Homo sapiens: one gene and its partners. The protein of the gene in region 2 purifies or fractionates together with the protein of the main gene of each other region. This does not show direct contact. Each region holds a gene or a part of one and is shown on either strand. Other genes may lie near its edges.

The links. The genes of interacting proteins can lie anywhere in the genome.
Region 1: the proteins of RPUSD3 (region 2) and ANXA1 purify together in Homo sapiens (affinity purification with mass spectrometry; 2 studies listed by BioGRID and IntAct, with this or other methods). This does not show direct contact.
Region 3: the proteins of RPUSD3 (region 2) and YARS2 purify together in Homo sapiens (affinity purification with mass spectrometry; 2 studies listed by BioGRID and IntAct, with this or other methods). This does not show direct contact.

The regions. Positions count from the first base shown.
Region 1 is NC_000009.12:73,161,145-73,168,864, reverse strand, and holds part of ANXA1 (annexin A1), read right to left. Parts: intron 6,084-7,720; coding exon 6,004-6,083; intron 5,390-6,003; coding exon 5,333-5,389; intron 3,750-5,332; coding exon 3,656-3,749; intron 2,769-3,655; coding exon 2,673-2,768; intron 1,369-2,672; coding exon 1,310-1,368; intron 1-1,309. UniProt on the Homo sapiens protein: Plays important roles in the innate immune response as effector of glucocorticoid-mediated responses and regulator of the inflammatory process. Has anti-inflammatory activity.
Region 2 is NC_000003.12:9,836,756-9,841,855, reverse strand, and holds the end of RPUSD3 (mitochondrial mRNA pseudouridine synthase RPUSD3), read left to right. Parts: intron 1-1,050; coding exon 1,051-1,158; intron 1,159-1,239; coding exon 1,240-1,324; intron 1,325-1,520; coding exon of another isoform or gene 1,521-1,548; coding exon 1,549-1,672; intron 1,673-2,684; coding exon 2,685-2,824; intron 2,825-3,648; coding exon 3,649-3,840; 3' UTR 3,841-4,007; downstream 4,008-5,100. UniProt on the Homo sapiens protein: Catalyzes uridine to pseudouridine isomerization (pseudouridylation) of specific mitochondrial mRNAs (mt-mRNAs), a post-transcriptional modification necessary for their translation.
Region 3 is NC_000012.12:32,752,898-32,761,453, forward strand, and holds the start of YARS2 (tyrosine--tRNA ligase, mitochondrial precursor), read right to left. Parts: upstream 3,001-8,556; 5' UTR 2,978-3,000; coding exon 2,199-2,977; intron 1,189-2,198; coding exon 1,021-1,188; intron 1-1,020. UniProt on the Homo sapiens protein: Catalyzes the attachment of tyrosine to tRNA(Tyr) in a two-step reaction: tyrosine is first activated by ATP to form Tyr-AMP and then transferred to the acceptor end of tRNA(Tyr).

The sequences.
Region 1 (7,720 bases), on a different chromosome or scaffold from region 2:
TGAAATGAAAATAAATAATCCTCTACATTAGCGGTAGGTATAGAGAGCTGTCACAACTTCCTAACTCATCTCTCACCATCCGGTCTCTACACTGTCCAATAATTACAAAAAAAGGGAACTTCTAAACTGCAAATCTAATAAACTAGTCTATCTATTTAAAACACTGTCAGTGATCTTCTGTTGCTCTTAGGATAGAATCTAATCAGGGCTTCCGATATCCTGCCTAATTCTTTTTCAAGGCTTACAATATCCTGCCTAATTCTACCATCTCTTCCAGTGTGCACCATCACTCTATACTTACTGTCTTGAGAAGGTTATGTTACCTTTTGCCTTCAAGCCTGTGTGTGGGTTACTTCTTCCTCTTGGACCACCCTTGCTTTATCCCCATCTCTTCCACTCTTGCCCTCATCTGGCTCATTTCTATTTAAACTTCAGGTGTTAATTTAGCTGACAGCAATGCTACCTGGATTTCCAAAGTCTGGAGTATATGTCCCACTTTTCTCTTCCATGGCACCAGGTATTCATCATTACCCAACGAAATATCACACTAGACTATGGCAGAAAGGGGGCAGCAACTATGCTAACCACTACAGAGCAGTACCTAGCATGTCTATCATTTCATATTATTCAAATTATTCATATATATTCAAAATATTCCTTCATATTATTCAAATAGTTAGATCTTTCTTTCTCTCTCTCTCTGAAAACCTCCTTATTTTGGAGCTGCAAAGAAAAAAGGAAGATAACTTCATAACTATTCATTTGTGGGCTCAAAATGTCAGAATAGAAGAGGTACCTTGTATAATACCATGCATGTCAGACAGTAAAGTTAAAGTGACATAGTTGATCTCAAATACATCATTCTACATCCTTAATCATAGAATGACATTTCAAAAGTTTCAACTATTAATCTGTGGCATAAAAGACAGAATAATAAAAACAACAAATCAGACTCATAAAGTGGGAGATTATAAAACTCACAACCTTAGAGGAAGTAGGCCACTAAAATTACACGTTAAAAAAGAAAGTACATCACCCTTCCCGTGGTGACACATGTTTTAAGCAAATCACAAGTGAGCCGTAAATCACTTACAGGCTCACTTTACAATCTCATCTGTAAAAAAAAGCACCGAATCTAACAGAAGTTTATTCTGAGAAGGTAGTGTATTACCTCTTTCATCAAATAGAACAATGATTCTCATTAATGGGAAGATATTAAATGTGAGATTTTCAAACAACATGAGGTTTTCTGTTCTTTCTACAAATAATTCTTCCTCTAAGCAGGACATATAAGTAGAATGGTACATACTTTCATGGCTTGATGAAGCTTCTCTGCAAAGAAAGCTGGTTTGCTTGTGGCGCACTTCACTGTTAGAGAAGAAAATTTTAGTTGATGTATTTACCATGAAAAAAATGAAATATCCATATGAAAGAAACAGGAAATATAGAATTTTGCCAACAGTGTTCTATCCCTCATCATCATTCTTCACCTCTCATCTCCCAATATAGGGCAGTTAACTTCTGAGAAGGTATTTGTGACTCTCTAGATGGTGGTTTTGAATATTCTTTTCCCTGACGATCAATTTTTTTATTACCTTAAATACATCTCAAGAGCAACTTCAGTAGTTTGCGCTATCCAACATATATTCTCCTTGGGAGTGGAGAAGCCACTAGGTGTTCAAGCCTATGTAAATACTTTATTTATGTTACTATAAGAACATTTAAAAAGAACACCCTATGAACAACAGACACTGCAGACTACTAGAGAGGGCAGGGAGAGAAGGGGCATTGGTCAAAAAACTACTTATTGGGTACTATGCTCACTGCCTGAGTGCAGAACACCCATGGAACAAACGTGCACATGTACCTCTGTGTCTAAAGTAAGAGTTGCACAAACAAATAAGTAAAAATAAATGAATAAATGAAGAAAAAACTCTGGGATAGGATGGGCTTAAATATAAAACAGAACCCAAATAATACTAGCACATTCCAGTTCATAGTGTTCTTCATCTTGTCGAGATCTATGGACCAACAGCATTGGCATCAATGGGGAGCTTGTTAGAAAAGCAGAATCTAAGCTCCACCCCAGACCTGGGGAATCAGAATCTGCATTTTAACAAGCTTTCCAGGGGATTCAAGTGCATAGTCATGAATGAGAAACACTGCTTGAGAACATAGGTTCCCCAACCCTGATGGTTGTCTGAATAACCTGGGAGATCTTTAAAAAGTACCGATTTTTAGAGGCCAACTCGGACCCACTGAATCAGACTCTCCTGGACCTGCCCAAGATTGTACAATTAACAAGCAGTAGACCAGGACTTGAAGTTACATTTATCCAGATGTTACATTTATTCCAGATCCCATGCTCTCAGTGACCATTCTGAATTGCCTCTGTGGTGTGCCCAGCCTGGTACATTGTTTGATATAAGTAGGTGCTCAATAAGTATAGTCTATCTCTCTCTATTTTTGAAAAGGGGAATAATATCTATTGTTATTAAGGTTATAGTACTTTGCCAATCTTTTACGTTGCTTCAATTGAAACAGATGCACTACTTCTGATTGTTTTTTGTTTTCTTTTATTGGTTTTGTTGCTGTTGTTCTTGTTAAGTATAGGATAGCTTTGAAAATACAATTTCTAGTTAGAAAACTCTTTCAACTGCTGGACTACATACCGATAGCTGTGAGGCATTTCTCAATGTCACCTTTCAACTCCAGGTCCAGAACTTTGTTCATGTCATGCTTACTGTACTTGGTGTATTTCTGAAACACTGAATATTAAATTCAAACTAAGATACATGCAAAACATCCTTTTCTTTAGAAAGCTTTAGCAAAATCAAGGCAACTGACTCAAAGAATTTTTTAGAATAACAACTTTGGCTACACCTTTTAAAGCAATATACCCAATTAATCATAACGTGAATACTTCATCCTCTCCTAGGAATGTAACTTACCTGGCCATTTTGGTATTCCTATATATTTTGGCGAAATGTTTGCAAATGTTGACAGTTATTAGAAACGGCATGTGATTGACAACTATAGCACTTCCTACAGCAGTTCTAAGAGCCACAGCAAATGGATCTTCCCTTATATAAAGACCTGTGCACTAAATTTCTCTTACATTTAACAGTAGAAATCAGTATACTATTATAAGATGGTGAACTTTGGTAATTGTCATAACTTTTCCATCGCCTTCACTTCCAAGAGGCCCAGAGCTAAATCTTGCACTCAAAGGCCAGGACTTTTTCTGAGTTTTGTCTTGTTGTTGTTTTTCCAAAGCACCTACATATTTCTTTCTTCATTTAGCTCTGAGGGTTTTTTGTTTTTTTTTTTTTGTTTTTCTTCATTCTAATTTCATTTGTTCTGTTATGCATGTCTTTTCCCACACATATTCCAAATCTTTTAGGGGAGTAAAAGCAGTGAAAATAACAAAATTATGTTCCACATGCCCAAGTCACAAAATGTATTAAATATGATAAAGTAGCGGCTGTACAAAATTGGACAAATTGACAAATAACAATGGGTCAGGAACACTGTATCTGTTTGATACAGGAGTGATATTGAAAAAGGGTTCTGTTTTTACTTTCTCTTATTTGTCATCAAAAAAGAAAATTGCATCTTCCATAAACAGATTCCAGAAAAAGAAATTTATTGTTACCTCTGCGAAGTTGTGGATAGCTTCTGGTGGTAAGGATGGTATTGAACACGTTTACGTCTGTCCCCTTTCTCCTTTCTCCTGCTTCATACAAGGCCTGTCAAGAAACACAAAAGTAAACACTTCACTATCTGCTGAAATGATATCTGCACAATAATGTTAGACCTTGTCAAAGATTATATAGGCAATCGCTTTGTGCCCAATACAATCAGAGTAGTCAACAATAAGATTGCAAGTTCTTTAAAGATAGGGACCTTATTTTGTTTGTCAAATATCTTCCACAGTTTCTCTCAAGGTGCCTTGTAAACACTAGAGTCTGAATATATGTTTGCAGAATAAATGTTTGCTGAACTAAATTGCTTTAAGATTATGCTCTATAGTAAGACAACTCCAAGGGGATCTCTAAAGATTTTTTACTCTGTGTTGTTCAAAGTAATTATCAGCAAATGTTACTTATAAATCAATAATTCAACCGTAACCTGGACCTTGCATTTTGATGTTAGAATTTCTGTATTCAAATTCTGACTCTGCAATTTCAAAGCTGCATAATCTTAGACAAATAGATCAACCTTACTAAATGACAGATTTTTTTCTTTTATATATGAAAAATATAATCCCTGCCCTATTGTCACAAGCGGTCTTTATTAACTTTGAAATGTTGACTACCATCATTCTCTTGGGTCACACTAATCCATGTAACCTCCATAAATATATATTAAGAACCCTGATAGTCTTAAAATGGAAAGCAAATTCAGAAATGTCAAAAGCAAATAAGAATTTTTTATTATGGGCAATTATTCAAATGCTAACTCTTGTTCCTTAATATGCTTGAACAATTTCTATTAAAATGATAAAACCTTCAATGTATGTAAAAATTATTTTGCATTTTTCAAGCAAATTGATCTGATATGTATGCATTTGTTGAACAAAAAGTTCATGAGTGCCTATTATGTACATGATAATGTACTGGTATAGCAGAAGTGGATGGGGGTGCACAAAGAAATCTCTATCCTTAGTGAAGCACTGTAATGAATTCTCTAGAGAATACTGTTCCATGAGAAGGCATAATGCAAATATTAGTTGTTTGTTTGTTTTAAATGGAAATTCCAGGCTTTAAAATGATATGATTTTTCTTATGTTGCCAGTGGTTTGGCATATAAATAATCAGCAATGTCACTGAAACTAAATAAAACAATATGTTAGAAAGCATATATTATTATAATTTATCCTATACTCTTGTTATATCATTGCAGTAATATTTTGACAATATAAATTGACATCTATAAACCATTCCAAAGTTCTCTGTTAAAAATAACGTTAAATATGCTTACTCTTTCCATTGCACATAATAAAAAAATTACATTTCCCCTTCTTATACCTAGTACAACGAAAGGTCAGAGTTTTTTTTAACAAACAATTCTTGGGAATGACAAATCAAATTTGTATTGTCCTTCTTCAGTTCTCTCTGGTTTTACGAATAATGAGAGATATTGAAAACTTACAAAGACTACTTTTTTGTGTGTGGGGGCTACAGAAAGACATGCCTCATTCAGGAAATGAACATTAAGAAGCCATTGGTCTCTCAGAAGATCTTAGATTTGCTTTCACAGGGGATCATGTGGTAGCCCCACTTAAGGTAGGAAGATGAACTGCAGCAGTATTTTGTAAGCACTTCCTTACCCTGGCATCTGAATCAGCCAAGTCTTCATTCACACCAAAGTCCTCAGATCGGTCACCCTGAAAGAAATCCCATTCTATTGTAAGCTCTTCTCTAGCATGTAATTGCATGATTTACTTAATTATCTTAAACTCAGATAAATAATATTTTTTGAGAAAAAGGTATTCTATTACTCATTTCTAGAAGGAGCTCAGATACAAGATTTTACTTGCGATGGTTTTAGATGTTCTTCCCCTCCAAACCTCATGTTGAAATTTGATCCCCAGTGTTAAAGGTGGGGCCTAGAGGGAGGTATTTGGGTCCTGGGGCTGATCTCTCATGAAGAGATTAATGCCGTCACTGGGAATGAGTTCTTGCTCATGAGAACCACGAGAGCTGGTTGTTAACGAGGCTGGCACCTCCCCATTCTCTCTCTTGCTTCCTTTCTTGCCATGTGGTCTCTGCACACACCAGCTCCCTTTCCTCTTCTGTCAGGAGTGGAAGCAGCCTGAGGCTCTCACCAGACATAGATACCCAAACTTGAATTTGTTAGCCATCAGAATCCTGAGCCAAATAAACCTTTTTATCTTTAAAAATTACCTAGCCTCAGATATTCCCTTATAGCAACACAAAATGGACTAAGAAATTAGTCTTTATAAAACAAGAGGCATTTCCTAAAGTATCTGAGTTGTACCTTAGCAAGAGAAAGCAAAGCGTTCCGAAAATCTCCAGATGTGTCTGAGGTTATGTCTTTGGCCAGATCTCTCTTCAGTTCTGAGAAAAAAGAAAAATAGATTTTATAGTAAACCAGTGATGAATAATAATAAGAATATCTGACATCTCTAAGTTGGTTGAAAATTCACAGTGCCACAGTGTTCAATGACTTATGGAACATGTTGCAAAATATTATCATTTTTAAATAAGAAGAGAAAAATTAAAGCAGGTAAATTTTTGGATCATTGAATTTATTTCATATGAAGCAATGGGAGCAATTTAGATAATACTGTGATTGAAAACTCACAGTCATAAAGCTTTCGTTAAGAATAAATTGTATAGGTATACATTAGTAATTAATTCTGAAATACAACATGGCAGAATTTAAGCAATAGAATGAATAAAATAATTGTTTAAAAGAACAAAATGAGGTACTTGCTTGAATGCAAATTATTTATTTAGTTTAAAAACTATAAATGTCTTATAAGTAATGCAGTTTGATGATTTATGTGTGTGTAAACACTTCTGCTTAACTACATAAAATAATACTGTAATAGGAAAAAATAATTGAATTTATAATTGACTAGTGCTATGGTTTTCATATTGTTTGTTTGGCCCTGCCAAGTCTCATGTTGCAATTTATTCTCCACTGTTGAAGGTGGGGCCTGTTGGGAGATGTTTGGATGATGGGGGCAGATCCCTCATGAATGGCTCGGAGTGAGTTCTCATTCATAGTTTCTTTAAGAACTGGCTGTTGAAAAGAGCCTGGCACCTCCTTTTCTCTCTCTCCCTCTCTGCACACATCTGCTTCTGTCTGCTTTCTGCCATGAGTAGAAGTAGTATGAGGCCCTCATCAAAAGCAGACGCTGGTCCCATACTACTTGTACAGTATTTCCTTTCTTTTTACATTACTTGGTCTCAGATATTTCTTTATAGCAACACAAACGGACTAAAACAACTTGAAACTGGGCAATGTAATAAACTATCACTGGCCTATATCTTGGCCATATGAAAAATATATAAACACTTATTTTTATAAACTATGTTTTATCAAACAAAAATAATCATCATTATTACCACTGACACATGGATCTAACATAAACATTGGTAATTAAATAAGAATTGCAGAAAATGAGGTTTAAAAGCTTCCTTATTTTTATTCTTTTATTAAATTCCTCTGAAAATGATATGCAAAAGCTATTGTATTCTCCATGCTTGGTATGAGAATCAAGCAGAAAGATCTTCTATATGCCATATATTGCATTGGGAAAGCCAAAAAGCCAGCAGCTCAGGGAAATGAGAGTAGGAAAATGGTAAGAGACTTGCAATTACCCTCTTTTCAGTGTTGAGCACATCATTTAAATGAGATGCTTCACTGGAGAGATAAAATAAGCTAAGACTAGTCTTTTATTCTGTGAATTTAACTAGAGATAAAGTGAGTCTCTTATGTTCATAACGATAAAGTTAAGGTTTCCAACAGAGAATTATAAGCACCTAATTCTTTACTTTTTCAAGGACAAATGAAAAACATTTTGTTAGGAGATTTTTTTGTTATTATATATTCTTTTCAAAAAAAATGACCTTGGGACATTTTTATAAAATACATTCCAGAATAATAGAAAAGTGTTTTTCAGAAATTTTTAAAAATTCAATGCTCTGAATTGAGGTTTCCATTATAATCGTATGTGGCCATTTAT
Region 2 (5,100 bases):
CTGTGAAGAAGAGGAAGCCGATGGCTCTGGGTTCAAATCCTCAAGTACAAATGGTGTGATACCAGGCAAAGCATGACACCTCCCTGACGCTGGGCACAGTGACTCACACCTGTAATCCCAACACTTCTGGAGGCCAAGGCAAGAGGATCACTTGAGCCCAGGAGTTCGAGACCAGCCTGGGCAAAATAGACCCCATCTCTGGAAAAACAACAACAAAACTTTCCGCGTGGTGGCTCATGCCTATAATCAATAGGACTTTGGGAGGCCGAGGTGGGAGGATTGCTTGAGTCCAGAAGTTCAAGACCAGCCTGGGCAACATGGCAAAACCCTATCTTTACTTAAAAAACAAAATAAAACACACACACACACACACACAAAAACCTAGCTGGGCAGAGCAGCACATGCCTGTAGTGCTCGGGTGGCTGAGATGGGAGAATCACCTGAGCTCAGAAGATGGCAGCTGCAATAAGCTGAGATCCCGCCACTGTACGCAAGCCTAAACAACCTGAATGAGACCCCGTCTCAAAAAAACAAAACAAAACAAATACCCTCCCTGAGCTTCAGTTCCCCTAATGGTAAAATAGAGAAAATAATACCTATGCTCAGTGTGCAGTCATTTCTCCATGACGGTACTCGTGGCAGGCATTGCTAGTCGATCCATGATACTCTTTCCTCTAACTGCCATCAATTAAAGATGGTACTTGAGATGAAATATTTCTGCAGTTCCACAAACTCATGAGCTTTTTTGTAGAGAACTTATTTAAGAGCTAATATGTACAGAATTTCTAGTAGAATTCTGGCACATGGTAGACAATCGTTACGACATTTGGCTCTGAGTTCCCTGGGGGCCGGGGCAAAATGAGAAACACATTAAGCTACATAGTCTTGTTATCAAAGAAGGGGAAACCTTACTTGTTTCTCAGGAGTTGGTCTAGGTTATAGTCCTGGTGTTAGTGTTTGGCCTGAAGCAGGTCAGTGTTCCTAAGAGTTTCCTTTTTAGTGGGCGAGTTCAAGGGACTTTAACTTGTGTGATTTGTCTGCTTATTCCAGAGAAAGCTCTGGGCTTGTACTCCTCTCCAGCTGTCCCCAGACAGCTAGTCGCCTCCAGAAGTACTTCACCCATGCACGGAGAGCCCAAAGGCCCACAGCCACCTACTGGTGAGAGGTGCTGGGAGGTTCCTAGAGTGGTGGGGAGGTCCCAGCAAGCCACCCTGTGACCTCCTCCTGCCCCTTTCTCAGTGCTGTCACTGATGGGATCCCAGCTGCTTCTGAGGGGAAGATCCAGGCTGCCCTGAAACTGGAACACATTGATGGGGTCAATCTCGTGAGTCCGGGTCTGGGAAGAGGAGGGGTGCTTCTAGATATAGTACCCCTACAGAGAGGAGTCAGGGGTATGGATTTGGGATGGCTGGCTCTCCTGTCCCCTAAAACAGGCAAGTGACCACTGCCTATACTGTGGCCCTGCCCGGAGTCTATTGGGAGCAGGGAGGGTCTGGGTATAGCTCCCAGACCTGTGTAAGGCTTGTTCACTCTTGGCTGGCACCACAGACAGTTCCAGTGAAGGCCCCATCCCGAAAGGACATCCTGGAAGGTGTCAAGAAGACTCTCAGTCACTTTCGTGTGGTAGCCACAGGCTCTGGCTGTGCCCTGGTCCAGCTGCAGCCACTGACAGGTAGGTCTGGCACCCTAGCCAGCCTTTAAAACTGCACTTGATTTGGGAGGCTGAGGCAGGTGGATCACGAGGTCAGGAGTTCAAGACCAGTCTGGCCAAGATGGTGAAACCCTGTTTCAACTAAAAACTACAAAAATTAGCTGGGCACGGTGGCAGGCGCCTGTAAAACCAGCTACTCGGGAGGCTGAGGCAGGAGAATCGCTTGAACCTGGGAGGCAGAAGTTGCAATGAGCCAAGATCATGCCACTGCACTCCAGTCTAGGTGATAGAGGAGACTTCATCTAAAAAAAAAAAAAACTGCACTTGAGCCAGGCGCGGTGGCTCACGCCTGTAATCCCAGCACTTTGGGAGGCCAAGGCGGATGGATCACTTGAGGTCAGGAGTTCGAAACCAGCCAGGCTAACATGGTGAAACCCTGTCTCTACTAAAAATACAAAAATTAGCTGGAGTTGGTGGCACGCACCTGTAATCCTAGCTACTTGGGAGGCTGAGGCGGGAGAATCGCTTGAACCTGGGAGACAGAGGTTGCAGTGAGCGAAGATCACACCATTGCACTCCAGCCTGGGAGACAGAGTGAAACGCTGGCTAAAAAAAAAAAAAACTGCACTTGGCTTAGGGAGGCAAGGAGCTGGGGAGACAGTGGTATCAGCAGCAGCCTGGGGAGCATTTGATGGCCCCCAGAGGTGTATGTGACCAGGCCCAGCTAGAGGAGGCAGCTTCAGGCTAGCACCCCAACAGGAAAGAACAGTCCTTAGGCCCGGTGGCTTCAGCAATTAAATCAGGGTTGCATCTCATCATGAGTGGATCCCACAGCCAGGCAGATTGATAGCTGTGATCGTCCTGACGTGTTATGTGTCCCTCTCTGGATGCAGGGGCCATAGTACTGACCTCACTGAAACATATGATCTGAGAAAGGGGGTGGTGTTTCCCCAAAGGAAAAGGGGAGGAGTGATACTGGGTGGCACAGAACGAGTAGCTGCCCACTGTCTCTCCTGGCTTTCCTGTTGCCCAGTGTTCTCCAGTCAACTACAGGTGCACATGGTACTACAGCTCTGCCCTGTGCTTGGGGACCACATGTACTCTGCCCGTGTGGGCACTGTCCTGGGCCAGCGATTTCTGCTGCCAGCTGAGAACAACAAGCCCCAAAGACAGGTACTCCAGCCCACCTGCCTGCTGCTTTCTGAGGGGTGGAGGGAGAGGTGAGCATGGGCAGCATCTCCAGACCTTATCTGTGCAGCTTGGGACTACTGGGAGGCAGCCCTTTTGGCTCCCAAGGCTGTATCCGTACCCACATCTTGGTGTGTGGCCTTGGGCAAGTAACACTCACTCTCTTGGGCTTCATTCTGTCCATGTGTTCAATAAGGGAGTTGATGTGGCTAATTTCTAAAGCCCTCTTAAGTCTGCCATTCTTTGAGTCTGGTACAAAGGGTCAAAGGCATGCGTGTATTAGGACACCAGATGCCTCTACCTGCTCTAACACACTAAGCCCAGACTACCAGAGTCTTCACACAAGAACTGTGCCCTCATGTTAAGGTCAAATAATGGGAGTGGGCTCTGCTTCAAGCACTAAGTACTCAGGGACCCAGGCTGTTGATACCCAGCCAGATGAGGGGAGACAGTGTAGGTTCAAGTGGATAAGGTTTTTCTGGGCCAGGTGTGGAAGTGGCATACATACTGCCACCCACATTCACTCAGCTAGAGCTCACTCACGTCTCACCAAGCTGTGAGAGGGCTGGGAAATGGAGTTGAGGTGTGTGCCTAGGAGGAAACTGATTGGGTGACCCCCTAGCCAGTCTCTGCTGCAGTGTGAGTGCCTGTGTGAATGTGCACATCTGTGTGCAAAGAGGAAATGATTAACAGTTGCAGAACAGTGGGGAATGGAGGAAGCGCCCGCCTTACTCCCATTTCCCTTAGAGCTGGGTACTCAGCTGCTTGGAAAATGTGGGGCTGAACACAACGTACCTCTCCCGCTCCAGGTCCTGGATGAAGCCCTCCTCAGACGCCTCCACCTGACCCCCTCCCAGGCTGCCCAGCTGCCCTTGCACCTCCACCTACATCGGCTCCTTCTCCCAGGCACCAGGGCCAGGGACACCCCTGTTGAGCTCCTGGCACCACTGCCCCCTTATTTCTCCAGGACCCTACAGTGCCTGGGGCTCCGCTTACAATAGTCCTCCCTCTGTTCCTGACCCCCTCACACACACTGGAAAGTGAGGGTGGGGGCTCTGCAGTCAGACAAACCTAAGATCACATCCTGGACAGGCCACTTGCTTGCTGTGTGGCATTGGGCAAGTAACTTTACCTCTCTGGACTTGTGATAATAAAAGTTCCTACCTCATGTTATGGTTTTGAGGATTTGCTAAGAAAGTAAATGTTTATTACGGATCTTGCTTACTGCTGAGTTGTGCCTGTAATCCCAGCACTTTGGGAGGCCAAGGTGGGCGGATCACGAGGACAGGAATTCGAGACTAGCCTGGCCAACATGGTGAAACCCCGTCTCTACAAAAAGTACAAAAATTAGTTGGGTGTGGTGGTACGCGCCTGTAGTTCCAGCTACTCAGGAGGCTGAGGCAGTGAACCTGGGAGGTGGAGGTTGCAGTGAGCCAAGATCACACCCACTGCCTAGGCAACCGAGCAAGACTCCGTCTCAAAAAAAAAAAAAAATTTGTAGAGATGGTGGCTGGGCTCAGTGGCTCATACCTGTAATCCCAGCACTTTGGGAGGCTGAGGTGGGTGGATCACTTGAGCCCAGGATTTCAAGACCAGCCTGGGCAACATGGCAAAACCCTGTCTCTACAAAATATGCAAAAAAAAATTAGCCAGGTGTGGTGGCATGTGCCTGTAGTCCCAGCTACTTGGGAGGCTGAGGTGGGAGGATGATCTGAGCTCAGGAAGCAGATATTGTAGTGAGCCGAGATCTTGCCACTGCACTCCAGCCTGGGTGAGAGTGAAACCTTGTCTCAAAAAAAAAAAAAAAAAACAATTGAGATGGGGTCTTGCTATGTTGACTAGGCTGGTCTCCTGGCCTCAAGCAATCCACCTGTTTTGGCACCCACCCCCCGCCAATGTGCTGGGATTACAGGCATGAGCCACTGCACCCAGCCTTCTTACTCTATTATATTTTTTAAAGCAGGGTCTCAGTATGTTGCCCAGGCAGGCTACCCTCCAACTCCTGGCCTCAAGCAACCCTCCCGCTTCAGCCTCCTTATCTTTTTTTTGAGACAGAGTCTCACTCTGTTTCCCAGGCTGGAGTGCAGTGGTGTGAGCTCTACTCACTGCAACCTCTGCCTCCTAGGTTCAAGCGATTCTCCTGCTGGGATTACAGGCACGTGCCGCCACACCTGGCTAATGTTTTTGTTGTTGTTTTGTTTTTGAATCTCTGTTTTTAAAGCAGGGTCTCAGTATGTTGCCCAAGCAGGCTACCCTCCAAC
Region 3 (8,556 bases), on a different chromosome or scaffold from region 2:
AAAACATCTTGGCCAATCTTAGCCCTTTTTATTTCTATGTCAGTGTTACAATGAGCTTGTCAAGTTCCACAAAAAGCCGGTTTAGATATGGTTGGCACTGTACTAAATGTAGATCAAATCCAGAACTGGTATCTTGGCCGGGTGCGGGGGCTCATGCTGTAATCCCAGCACTTTGGGAGTCTGAGGCAGGTTTATCGCTTGAGTCCAGGAGTCTGAGACCAGCCTGGGGAACAAGGTGAAACTCCACCATTACTAAAAAAAAAATACAAAATTAGCTGGGCATGGTGGTGTGCACCTGAGCCTGGGAATTTCAGGCTACAGTGAGCCAAGACTGCGTCACTACACTCTAGCCTGGGCAATGGGAGTGAGATTCTGTTTCAAAAAATACAAAAAAGAACTGATATTATTTTTGTACTATGAATATGGTCTAACTCTCCATTTATGTAGGTCTTTATTTTGCTCAATAGCATCTTTTAATATTTTGCAGGAAAGTCATATACCTTTTAAGTCTTAAAGAATTATTCCTAGATTACTTTGATGTTACAGAGCATCAAAATATTTTTTTCACTTTTTGTTGCAGGTATATTTGTTTCTCATTAATTCATATTCTTCCAAGAGTTTAAGGCAATTTGATTTAAGGAGAAATCATTTCTTAAGAGGATCTTTAAAGTCATATTTGTGAGAGAAGAGAGACAAAGGAAAAATAAGGGTAGTCAAGGTTAAGTTGAAAGGAGTGAAAAAACTAGAATATGCAGGTGATAAAATCCTAAGAACTTGCTAGATACAGATCAAAAAGTTGGCTCTACATTTTCTAGCCACCCACTGTTTTTCTGCTTTAACCAACAAAGTGTTTAACTTTAGAACACAGTAAAAATTAGTCTTCTATGATGTAATGGTTTATGTACAGACAGAAACTACGTTAAAAACAAAAAAACTATAAAATGTACATAGATTCAATGGCTAAAATTACATCATGAGTTTATGGTGTCAGTTTTTCTCAGCCCATTATTCAGAACTCACCTTTCCACTGAATCGTCCGGTTGCCTGACAAAGAATTGATACAATTCAAATGGAGATGTCTTATCTCTGTTTAGCCAAACAGCGTTGCCAGCAGACTTTCCCAGCTTTGCTCCAGTTGTACTTGTAATTAGAGGAACGGTGATTCCAAATACATCTTCTCCAGTCAACCTACGCATAAAGAACAATTTCATTATGTGCCTCAAGCACAAGTGGTGGTAGGTTCTACTGTTCACCTTCCAGATTTCTTTCTGGTTACTTGCTCCAGGAAAACTTCCTTGACCTCCTAAATCTGAATTCTTGTTCCTCTTATGTATTGTTACAGTACTTACTCTATTCATTCTGAACCTCATGAGTGGTTCCAGGCAGGTTCTAGGCAGGCCAAGGGGAAGTGCTACATAACAATGGACTAGAGATTTTGAAAGGCTGAGTGGGAAGGAGAAAACTGGGTGAAGGGGTGTCAGGAAGAGACACTAAAGGAAATCTTCTAAACGCCTTTTAAACATGTGCTTTGCTCTGTTGCACATGAGCTAGCCCTATCCTTCACCTCTCTCAAGAAAATGCTATTAGACCCGCATTACTTGTCAATTATTTGGAGTTGAAAAAACTTTTTGAGATACCAACCAAGGACTAACACTAGTTTCATGGAGGGTGCAGAGCTAAAGCAGAGGCTAGCTACTCAAGGAGGCCCAGTCACGTTCTGGTATAAACACACAAAAGCAGTTTCTCTAATTAGAGAGGACGACTTAGGCGAAGCAAAACAGACCGACCAAATCTTCACTAGTGGTCTGTTTCCCTTTTTTTTTTTTTTTTTTTTGAGACGGAGTCTCCCTCTGTTGCCCCAGGCTGGAGTGCAGTGGCGCGATCTCGGCTCACTGAAACCTTCGCCTCCCGGGTTCAAGAGATTCTCCTGCCTCAGCCTCCCGAATAGCTGGGATTACAGGCGTGCATCACCACGCCCAGCTAATTTTTAGAATACACCGTTTACTCTTAATACCCTTAATTCAGCCCTTTAATTCTTATTAGCCAGTGTTATTAACGCCATTATAGAGCCTTAATGGGGATAAAACCAACAAGAGCTGGAACGAAGGGCAGCAACTACAATCCTAAGAGTGAATCACAGGCTACTAGTGTGTAAATTATTTGGTCCCAGGATTTCCCCAAGGTTTAAAGGCACTTACTTGTTGATGAACTCATATCCGGACATGATGTTGCCTAGTTGATCAGATCCGCCCAGCTGGACCCTGCATCCATAACGCTGGAAGAGGTAATAGAAGTCATAGGCCTGGAGCACCTGGTAAAAGAACTCGGCCAAGCTCATGCCCTCGGGGCTCTTGAGCCGCAGCTGCACGCTCTGCCGGCTCAGCAGCGTCCCCATGCGGAAGTGACCCCCCACTGCCGCCAGGAAGTCCACCAGGTGCTGCTTCTGGTACCAGGCCGAGTTGTCCAGCACAGTGAAGCTGCCCCAGGAGCGCCCATCAGTGAAAAGCTGCTGGTGATTAGCCGCCAGGGCCTCAAGCCCTAGGCGCAGAGCTCGCGCGTTGGCTCGCACGCGCTCTGTCTCCAGCGCCTCGCGTTCCTTGGTACGGCCGCTCGGGTCTCCCAGGCGCGCCGTGGCGCCTCCCACCAGCGCGATCACGTTGTGGCCCGCTCGCTGCAAATGAAACAGGCCCAGCAGCGCAAGTAGATGACCCACATGAAGCGAGTCTGCCGTGGGGTCGAAGCCACAGTAAATGGTTTGGGGAAAACTCGCCGTGCCACGGTCGAAGAGCTCTGGGAGCTCTATTTTCGTCCCCGTCTCCGGGAAGAAGTCCTTGAACAGACCTCGAGCCTTCTGCGCTGCCAGTAACCCCTGAGCGCCCGAGTGGGCCTTACGCAGCCCCAAGGGCAACAATACTGAGAGATTTAGGGTACCAGACCACCGGCCCCAGGAAAAGGACCGCAAGATGGGCGCCGCCATCTTGGTAGCGGCACGAAGGGAATGCTGGGATTGCAGAGGCTCCCACCACACCCACCTACTTACAGCTCCTAGGGAAGGTGCTTCAGTGTTTTTCTGCGCATGCCCGAGACGGTTACGTAGTTACGGAGCTTGCGCTCTCAGCAGTTGAGTCCCGACTCCAAGTGGCGATTCCGCCTCAGAGCCGTCGCCTTACGTTCCCTTAAACTTAATTTTTCCATCAGCAGTGTGGATCTGCTTATGATAGTTCCTACCTCATAAGGCTGTTGTGAGCCTTAAAAATTAAAGCATTTGGCACATAACGCTTCACAAATGCTAACTTGTATTTACATTTTCACGTAAAAAGATTGTGATGCGCAAGTTCTTTGAAGTCTTGGTTCCATGCAAAAAGCTGTTCACAGAGGTTGAGAAAGGTTAGGAATTGGTTTAAGTTCGCGGAGAGATAGGGAGTTGCTGCTGAGACGCAAGCAATTTCATAGTACCGATTCCCTAATTGCACCTCGTCCCCAGTATTCATCGGCTCTTCCAGGAGGTGGCAGTCTTGTCCAAGGTATAGCAAGAAAAACTCAGTGCAATAAAGTACATGCATCAAGTCCTGTGGTTTATTTATTTTAAATACAGTTAACTAGGTTGGGACACAGCTTAGCATGAGTGGATTCAAGTTAGTAATCACATCGTGCAGCGTGACAGGTGCTCTGAATACTGACCAGGGATGAGGTTCTTATTGGCAGCTGGCTGGCAGGTGATCTAGCTTCAAAATCCCATGTTAGAGCCTGATTTCTAGGACCGCTTTCAAAATCGTCTTAGGTAGAATTCCCTGGACTCTGAGTTGGGGGGGAGACTGGTTTGCAGGAGGGTAATTGGAGTGTGCTCTTAAGAACAACACCTATAATGGAGTGAGGGAGGCCGGGTTGGGCGGAGGGAGAAAGAAGTTGAACTGTGAACAATTTGTAATAGAGGCCTCAGGCAATCCAGTAAGGGCTCTGGAGCCGGGATTTCCTTTCAGAGTCATCCTGAATTGAGGCCAGGGGGCAGACCTTTAGACCCTCTTACTGACTGCTCATTAAATGTGGGATGTTTCTGGGGAGGAAGCAAAACGCTGGGTTAAGGCTTTTGGAGAGTGAGATGTGCAGGAAGGGACTCAGCTGTGAGCAATAAGCAACCAACACTCCCAGCAGCTGGGGGATTGAGTGCCTTGGTCCTGTGACTGGGATCTGGGCCATGTTCCAAATCATTCCCTACAGGACTTTTCCATTTTTTAACGTTATAAAGTTATCTAACAAAATGAAAACTTATTTTAATAATTAGTTTCTTTGCATGTATAATTATCAGTGAATTAGTTTCTCATTGCCAAATAGTAACTTCAATAGGATTTTGAGATACTCATTCAATAGGCTATTAAACATACTCCCAACTGCTTAAGAAAATAGTGTGTTCAAAATATCTTAAAATTTGCAATCATAACCTGTTGATCTTCAGTGTTTTTTTTTTTTTTAAGTGTCACTCTGTTGTCCACACTGGAGTGCCGTGGCAGGATCATGGTTCACTGCAGCCTTGAACTCCTAGGCTCCAGCGATCTTCCTGCCTCAGCCTCCCAAGTAGCTGGAGCTACAGGTGTGGACTACCATGCCTGGCTAATTTTTATTTTTTGTTTTTGTAGAGACGGGGGTCTCACTGTATTGCCCAGGGTGGTCCTAAACTCCTGGCCTCAAGCAAGCTTCCCACCTCTGCCTCCCAAAGTGTTGGGATTACAGGCATGAGCTACTTCGCAAGGCCAATCTGCAGTCATATGGTCCACCACTTTGATCAGGGACAGATTTCAGTAGGTATGGCAGGAAATTCTCCTGAGCACACGTAAGGAAACTCACATCTGGGCCACTTGTCACTTGAAAGCCAAAAACCCAAGAGAAGAGCTGTAGTGAAAGTAAAGTTAGCTTTATTCAAGAGACCAGCAACCCTGGGGGATGCAGTGAGCTAGCGTTCAAAGACCACCTCTGGTTTTTAAGGGCAATTAAGAGAAAGGATGATAAAAAGATTTTTGTGAAACGTGTGCAGTCTCAGGTCGGCAGTAAATCATTGCTTTCTTGGTCAATATTTTGTGGCTTTCTGCAGGTACCATCAGCCTATTCTTATTAGGTCGGTCAGCCCATTCACAGAGAGGCTGATCTAGGTATTTTCTTTTATCTCTGTTCAAGATCCTGTTTTTCTGAGGCTGATTTTAGTGAATGATCTACAAAATCAAGCAAAGTAATAATTGTATTCAAGTAAGCAAGCTTTCTTCTAACATGGAATCAGTACTGTCACACACACAGCAAATGGTGCTTTCTATTTAGTACCTTAATACATAGGGCACACATGTGTTTCTGGTGACACACAACTCTCTGGCTTTTACAGGTGTGTTAGTAATTTGAAAATCCTACTTGTTACAACAGTATGCCAGGGTTACTTGATGTCAGGGTTACTTGATGACCTGTGCTTAATGGAGAAGAATTTTGTGGATAATGAGAAATAGAAAATTTCTACCTGGGATTACAATTTATTATAAAGTCTTTTAAAAATAGATTTGAGCTCTGCTTTGTCTCTTAAGTTTAGTTGCATCTCATGAAGAGGCAGCAAAGTCTGATATAGAAGGTGGTGTCGGGCCGGGTGCGGTGGCTCACGCCTGTAATCCCAGCACTTTGGGAGGCTGAGGTGAGCGGATCACTTGAGGTTGGGAGTTTGAGACCAGCCTGACCAACATGGAGAAACCCCATCTCTAATAAAAATACAAAATTAGCCGGGCATGGTGGCGCATGCCTGTAATCCCAGCTACTTGGGAGGCTGAGGCAGGAGCATTGCTTGCACCCACGAGGTGGAGGTTGCAGTGAGCCGAGATCATGCCATTGCACTCCAGCCTGGGCAACGAAAGCCAAACTCCGTCTCAAAAAAAAAAAAAAAAAAAGAAGGTGGTGTCACAGGAGGTGCTAGATGAGACTTGACAGTAGCTTAATGACAGTAACAAGCAACAAGTTTGGAAAATACAGTGAGATCAATTACTCTCTTTTTATAATTTGTGTTGGTATTATAGGGGAAATTGGGCTTTGTCCCAAAGACAGGAGCAATAAAGAAGATGGGACTTTCAAACCTTTGGAATTATATCCGTGGCTAAAATTTTATGGGATTGCACCCATGGTTTGCATTTGGGTTACAAAAAAGTGACCAAGTTAATTCTTGCTGTTTTTATTGGCTTAAAAAGTGAGTGAACAAGGGTTAAAAAGTATTTTTAAAAATATGATTTATCTCAACTGTAATAACTTGAGGTTAACTGGCCTTGAATTAGAGGCACATGTGTTTTACAGTTACCTTTTCCTGCAACAAAATGCCACATAAATGTTCTCTTTGAAGGGATCCCTGTTTTAAATGGCTTGGTTTTCAAAATGTAAACAAATATAAATATAATAGAATTCAAAAGACACAGAGTAAACAGTAATGGTATTTTAACTGATCTCTACTTAACTTTGAAAATTTCTCTATCTCTAGCATTGTATTAAATATATATTCAGATTACAGCAGAGATCTGATTAGGGCTGAAATATGAGCTGCTCGAACATCACAGCAAAATGACAGCAGAAAGAAGTCTGAGGAATTCTGATCATTATAATCACTATAAAATATAATTCTTATTTGTGTTTTCTGTTTTTTTTTCCTTGGAGAAGATTATTGGTGACATCAGATGCAAAAGGGAGTGGATAGGAACAAGAAATAGAAATTGTAAACCTATAATTGTAAACCTACGTAACCATGCCCGGTTACGGCCGGGCATGGTGGCTCACGCTTGTAATCCCAGCACTTTGGGAGGCTGAGGCGGGCAGATCACCTGAGGTCAGGAGTTTGAGACCAGCCTGACAAACATGGTGAAACTCCCGTCTCAACCAAAAATACAAAAATTAGCCAGACGTGGTGGCGGGCGTCTGTAATCCCAGCTACTCAGGAGGCTGAGGCAGGAGAATCACTTAAACCTGGGAGGCGGAGGTTGCAGTGAGCCGACATAGCACCACTGCACTCCAGCCTGGGCAACAGAGTGAGACAACATCTCAAAAAAAAAAAAAAGAAAGAAAAGAAAAAGAAATTGTAGGTTATTGCAGAAAGGCCATGGCTTTTCTTCCAGTTGAAGTATTTCCATGGCTTTTCTTCCAGTTGAAGTATTTCCATGACATTCCTATCTCCTATTACTTGGGAAGAATCATTTCTAAAGATTGATTTCATGTCTTTGTTGTCTTTGTATAATAATTTATAACTCAATCTGCCTCATAATTACATCTTCTCACACATGACTTTCATGTTGCTGTTTTTCTTGAAACCTACATCTAAAGTCCTAAAGATCCTCCCACTCTGCCCATCCTTACCTGCAAGGCAGTTGCTCCCCTTTCATTCCAAACTAATTTCTTTCAGGAAGCTCCTCTGCATTAGGTAGGGCGAAGGAAGGATGCTTTTACTGTCCAGGTTCATCATGCCCCTAAAATGTATTAAAATGTAAAATCAATAATGCTTACCCTTCCCACACAAAAAAATGGAAAGACCATTAAGTTCTATTAAAATTTATAGAAATTTATGTGAGCTAAGTGTCTTGAAACCTAGTCTGTGTCCCTTGATTGAAGTGGCTTTAATGCTTTTTGAGCTGATGGTCATATTAACATCCAAAAATTTTTTATAAGAGATTAGCTTATTTTAAGATGCTGATTGTAGGAGGATAATTAGACAAAGAAACATGTTACTAGATATGCATTTCCTTTCTATATTAGAGTTTAGAGAAGGATACCCCAAGTTTCTTTCTTTCTTTCTTTTAGGCTGCTGTTGTAGCCAGTGGAATAACCTGGAGGTCTCAGCATTGCCTTAACTTTATGCACCTGGTCCCATACCATATGGCTGGATAATGTTTTGAGATATTTATGGGTTTAAAAATCTTTCATTTTCCAGGCCGGGTGCGGTGGCTCACGCCTGTAATCCCAGCACTTTGGGAGGCCGAGGTGGGCAGATCACGAGGTCAGGAGTTCGAGACCAGCCTGGCCAACATAGTGAAAACCCGTCTCTTCCAAAAATACAAAAATTAGCCAGGTGTGGTGGCACACGCCTGTAGTCCCATCTACTCAGGAGGCTGAGGCGGGAGAGTCGCTTGAACCCGGAAGGCAGAGGTTGCAGTGAGCTGAGACCACGCCATTGCACTCCAGCCTGGGTGACAGAGTGAGACTCCGTCTCAAAAAAACAAAGAAATAAAAAATCTTTCATTTTCCTCTCTTCATTTTAACTGTCCATTTGTAGCAAGTTCTGTGTGTCAGTGCCTTGGGGAAAGTACAAGTCGGGGAGGAATACAGAGTCATCCTGGAACTCTTTGTAACTTTTGTTTCCAAAAGTCAAAAGCCTAAGATAGGATGAAGTTTAAGGAAATAAGCTTAGAGAAGAGAAAGAGGTAGGATTCTCCAGCTTAAAGAGAGTGCCCCTGCCCCAAACCTGGGCAAGGGAGCCCTGGCTATGGCCCTGGTTTGCCAGAGGAGCTGTGCATTGCTCCCTGGCCTCAAAGGGACGACCTCCTGCTACACTTCCAG